Regions from separate parts of the Homo sapiens genome. Here region 2 is linked to region 1. A link means that fine-mapping ties the variant in region 1 to the expression of a gene that starts in the linked region. Tissue or cell type: hippocampus. Region 1 holds a variant in brackets; the other region holds the start of a gene. All regions are shown on one strand. Distances are from middle to middle.

Region 1 (2,682 bases):
TGGCCACCTACTATCCATTCCAGTCAGGCTCCCCAAACACATAAAAGAACTGAGAGCACGCATCACAGCATCCCTCTCCCATGATGCCTGGAACTGTCCTGGATCCTGAACTGTTTGAGCTAAATTCCAGCCTTTTCATCTGTCCCCTGGGCAACCTTCGATTCCATTTATATGAAATCTCCAAAATAGGTAAATCCGTATGGACAAAATGCAGATTCATTGTGACCCAGGGCCGATTGAAGAGGGAAAGCTGAGAGTAATAGGGTCTCCTTTGGAGCTAAAACTGCTTTAGAACTAGGTAGAGGTGATGATTGTAAGCCATTGTGAATGTACCGAATGCTGCGGAACTGTACACTTTGAAATAGTTATGTTACATGAATTTCACTTCAATAAAAATTTTAACAAACTAGGATACGAGACAGATTATGGTAAGTGTATAGCAGAAGAATAAACGCAGTGCCAGGAAGCCTGGAGAGATTGGCTTTCACTCCCAGTTTCACTCCCACAGTCTCCCGCTATCCCCCACCATGCCTGGCAGTCCCCACAGTCACCTCTGCTCAAGCTGCTTCCTCCTCCCAGAATGGGCTTCTTTCTTTGTTCTGCTGAGAGCCCATCCCCAAGGCTTAGACAAAATGAGAAGGGCCTGTGAAGACACCCTTGGTAATAAAGGGACAGAAGATACCCTTCGGTCCCCTGTTCTATTCACATTCCTGAAATGGGAACACCTCCTCCATTGGCCCTCTGTCCCAATCCCCATCATAGACCACCACACTCAGAAACACAGTGTGATGGACTCTTTTGTGGCAATGAATCTAAGTTTCACATTTGAGTTGACATGCTACACAGCAGAGATCCGAGATGAAGCTGTGACAGCCCAGAAGGAAAGTGACTGTGACTGCAACCACATAATCTCCCAGAACACGCAGACATCTGGGTGTGCACTGTGGGAGGAGCCTTGGATTTCCCCAGAGCTTGGAATGATCTAGAGGGTATCAACACCCTACTGGGGAAAGGAGTAATAAAATGCAGGTAATATTTTTTTCTCATCCTCTCAGTGTTGTCATAAGGATAAAATGCAATAACTTCCTCGAAACAGCTCAGAAA[A/G]GCCTAGATCATTTACAAACATAAGGCATTGTTTATGTTATAATTGCCGTGGCATCATGTTGGAGCCGTAACTGTCCTGAGAAACCATCTCACCAGACGTCTTTTCATTTTATAGATGAAGAGACTCAGGACTGACAGGAGCCTGCCAGAAGTCACACAGGCCTTTACTGAAGGGCCAGCACTCAGACGTAAACTTTCTAATCACGGTCCCTGATGCTTCCCTGAGAGCCAGGCCCACAGAAGCCCTGCATCCTTTGCTCCTCAGAGGTGCACCTTCTGCTGCCCTGTCCAGGCTCTGTGGAGTTGCAGGAGACTGGCAGCTCTGCAGAGTCCCTGGGTAGCATCACTGTGGCTTCATCAAGGCCGCGATGTTGTTCCTTCTTACATCGTTCTCAGTGAAAACCAGCCTCTGTGCTTGACACTGTTGGGTTGTCTGCAGCTTTCTGGCCTTTTCCTCCTCCAGGTCTTCATCATAGCCATGAGCATGTCACCTGCATACGTGCAACTTGGATAGGTTCTCTCAAAATATGTTACTCCACGCTTGCCCGTGGTGAGGCGTACCTACCCCTTTTTCTCTACTCATCCACCCTTGTAAAATCTCCCCTGATTAATACAATACCCCAGGAAAAAAGTAACAATTTTTCAACAGCCTTGGGTCCAAATCATCATCTGTATCATTTCCTCATTAAGACCTTTCTAAGAACTGTTGAATAAAAATGATTTCTTCTATTTTAGGCCGGGTACGGTGGCTCACGCCTATAATCCCAGCACTTTGGGAGGCTGAGGTGGGTGGATCGTTTGAGGTCAGAAGTTTGAGACCATCCTGGCCGTCATGGTGAAACCCCGTCTTCTCTAAAAATACAGAAATTAGCCGGGTGTGATGGCAAGCACCTGTAATCCCAGCTATTCTGGAGCCTGAGGCACGAGACTCACTTGAACCTGGGAGGTGGCGGCTGCAGTGAGCCAAGATTGTACCACTGCACTCCAGCCTGGGCTATAGAGTGAGACTGTCTCAAAAAAAGATTTCGTCTATTTTAAAGTCTGAGGGTGGGCACAGTGGCTCACGCACGTAATCCGAGCACTTTGGAAGGCTGAGGCAGGAGGATCGCTTGAGCCCAGGAGTTTGAGACCAACCTGAGCAACATAGCGAGGCCCCGTCTCTACAAAAATAAGAATAAAATTGATCTGATAGGTAGCTAAATAGACACATAGAATACATCTATATCTAATACATATTTCATATATGATATATGATATATAACCTTAGGGATGATTACATTTGCCTCAAAATCCATCTCCAAAAATTACAATGTGGGATTCTGGACTGGCTCCTAGAACAGAAAAAGACATTCGTGGAAAAACTTGTGAAATCCAAATAAAGCGTGGAGCTTAGTTAATAGTAATGCTGCATTTTCAGTTTCTTCATTTTCATAAATGTACCATGGTAATATAAGATGTTACCATTAGGGAAAACTGAGTGAGAAATTTAAGAGAACTCAATTATCTTTGCAACTTTTCTGTAAAATAAAAATTTATGTTTTAAAAGTCTAACAATCTTGTGAGAGGCCCCACATTTTC
Region 2 (2,682 bases), 870 kb before region 1:
GTCGGATGCATTCGAACGCCCTTGGGGACAGGATCCAGCAGGGGTGATCAAGAGATCAGTTACTTCCTGAAGGTAACACCCTTCCGGGTGATTTCGGGGAGACGGATGGGGAAGGTGGGTTGCAGTTAAGAGTTGGGCAGAGTGATCCAGGGGAACATTATCTTCTGCAGCTGTGCTGTGTAACTCCATGCATCCCTTTGATCCATAAAGTTTTCAAAGCCAGACCTTTTCCCATTACGGAGTGAATCTGACACAAGTGTACAGAATTTTGCACTTGGTTTCTTTTGGCCCCACTCCCCCCAGTCTTTTCTTTTGTTATGTTTTGTGCTTCAAATGGTTAGCTCAAGGGTTAAAGGAACTGTCCGGAGTTAGGTGCCTATGTCTTAATATCTTTTAAAAGTTGCTCATTTGATTCTCCTCCCTCTGGCCCATTTGGCGTTCATCTGAATGAGGGCTCCTGGTTATGCAGATAGGCAGTGGAGCTGTGAAAATGGACCACTAGGCCCCAAATCAACCTGGGCACATTTGCGCTCTGCAGGTTCAACCTCCCAGGAGGGCTCCCTGCGGTTATACCAACGCTGGCTGCTCTCAGTGGGCCTGAAAACCATCAACCGTCCAAGTCATAGGCAATCAGCAATCTCGATAGACTGATGGATCGTGGACAGAAGCTCTAACGCTGTTTCCATTCATTTAGCAACAGCAAATCAATCCACTTTCCCAGCATCCTGCAACTTTATCGAACTCGGCATCCCATTGCAGGATACGCCCCCGAACTCTCCTTAATTATATATTTCGCTATTTGCAATCAGGACTCGGCGATGCAGTCCTGACATCAGAGAATGGGCGTCTTCTCAGAAGGCCGCAGTAGCGGCAGCAGCTTTCCCGCCCTACTGAGCGCTCACTACAAGCGGGCTCTGGGCTAGGCGCGCCACCCGTGCAAGTCCCCGGGGAGCGGCGGTGCACCCTCCGTCCCGCGCGCTCGCAGCCATTGTAGGGGTGGGCGCTCGCCAGGCAGGGTGCCGACACGCCCTCTCCGCGCTGCGACGGGCGGCCGGGGGAGGAGAGGGTGCGCTGTGCGCACCGGAGGGAGAGGCTCCGGCCCAGCGCCGCCTGCCCGCCAGCAGACCAGCAGGCTCCTCTTTGCGGCGGGTGCCCCACGCGCCTCTCGGGCGCGCGCTCCCAGCCCCGCCCGCGTGCGGCGGCCGCACGGCCGCGAGAGCGCGCCTCCGCTTGGCGGGCACGGCCGCGAGCGCGCGTGCGCCCCTCCGAACGTCCCCGGGAGCCCAGCCAGAGCGAGCGCCGGGGCCGGGCGCGCAGGAGTGAAAAGGAGGCGGCGGCCGCAGCTGCGAGCAACAGATCCGGACGCCGCGAGCTGACCCGCTCTGCTGTTGGGCGATTTTTTTTTAATTGCAGAAAAATTTATTAAATTGGAAAATCTTGCGTTTTTCAATGGCGCTGGCCCCGGGTCAGCGGGCGATTTTCTCTGCATCAAGATGGGCTTTGCCGTTTCCGTAGTGGGCACCAGTGGTGGCCTGATTGTCAGTCTTCTCCCGGCATTTTTAAGGCCAGGAGCCGAGCGCTGCTTGTAGGCGAATACCCTACAGAGCGGTTTGGCTTTTTAAATTACTGTTATTATTTTGGGCAGAGAACAGTCGGTCTGGTGCACCCCGTCCTCGCTGCAGAAGAGGCTGCGAGTCCGAGGTGGGTCTCTCGGAAGGTGAAATTCCTTCTGGGGTGAGCGAGCCCCGGCCCCGCGCGCAGTCCAGCGGCCCCGCGTGTGTGCCCTCGCCCTGCCGGAGCCGGGAAAATGGAGGCTGTGATTGAGAAGGAATGCAGCGCGCTCGGAGGCCTCTTCCAGACCATCATCAGCGACATGAAGGTAGGACGCCGGGGGTGCGGCTGCGGCGCCGGCCGCCGCGCTCTGACCTCGCCGCCGCGCTTCGCCTCCACCCCGGGCCGGGCACCCGGCCCTTCCCTGCAGTGTGGCCACCGGCCACCTGCGGGAGCTCCCGGCCGGAGTGTCACCTGCTCACCCGGGGCGCTGCTCCGGGCTCTGCGGGGTCACTGGGCGGGTGGCTTCTCTGGGGGGTGTCTGCTGTCCCACGCCATCTCCCCCGCTCATTGTCCCAGGGGGCGGCACCATTTCTTTCCCTCGGGGGCTCAAGGCACTGGCTGCAAGTTTTCCCATTGTCTGTCCCTGAAGTAAGTGTCTGGGACCCGCGGGGGCTGGATGCCCGGGAGGACACCTGATTCCTCCGGGCACGGGGTGGGGGCGCCTGGCGCGGTGGTGGGGAGGAAGTGGGGGCTCTGCCCGCTCGCAGGAAGGAGTCCCCTAGCCTAGGAGACTGAGAGGGAAAGCCAGTCCCTCCTTGGCTGTCAGGTCTACTTGGAGTGGGGTATCTGAGCAAATTAGTTATTAATTGGGCCGTTCCGAAGCTGGTAAAGGTGTGCGTGCCCTCTCTTAGCCCTCCCGCGGGGCGCGGGGCCGAAGTTCCCGGGCAGCCTTGCAGGGGCCCCGCCTTCTCCCAGCTGAGCCTAAAGGCAAGATTGGGGCCCCCGAAATAACTGTATCCTGCCCTCCCAGACCCAAACGGACACACACTCTAGGTTTTCTCTTGGAAGGGTTGTGAAGATGGTGTGTGTGTGCGCGCGTGCATGTGTGTGTGCGCGCGCGCGCGTGGG

Alleles and levels. Alleles are on the strand shown, and positions count from the first base shown. SD is a standard deviation of normalised expression in the study named.
For the expression in hippocampus of the gene that starts at base 1,290 in region 2, allele G in region 1 goes with a lower level than allele A (moderate effect, 0.58 SD a copy in GTEx).

What was found. PIP is the estimated chance that this variant, and not a neighbour inherited with it, causes the effect.
Region 2: it holds the start of MTSS1, and the variant in region 1 is fine-mapped to the expression of MTSS1 in hippocampus (GTEx, PIP above 0.99).

Annotation. Positions count from the first base shown.
Region 1 is chr8:123,852,611-123,855,292 of GRCh38, reverse strand. All of the region lies in intron 1 of FER1L6 (fer-1 like family member 6), which reads right to left. Among named protein-coding and RNA genes, the nearest start is that of FER1L6, 2.0 kb to the right of the region's middle. The variant A/G (reference allele first, on the strand shown) is at 1,105.
Region 2 is chr8:124,727,081-124,729,762 of GRCh38, reverse strand. It overlaps MTSS1 (MTSS I-BAR domain containing 1), which reads left to right and starts at 1,290. Exons shown (of 14, transcript NM_014751.6): 1 at 1,290-1,879. The coding sequence starts at 1,808. It overlaps LOC105375741 (a long non-coding RNA gene), which reads right to left and starts at 1,224. Exons shown (of 3, transcript XR_002956670.2): 1 at 1-1,224.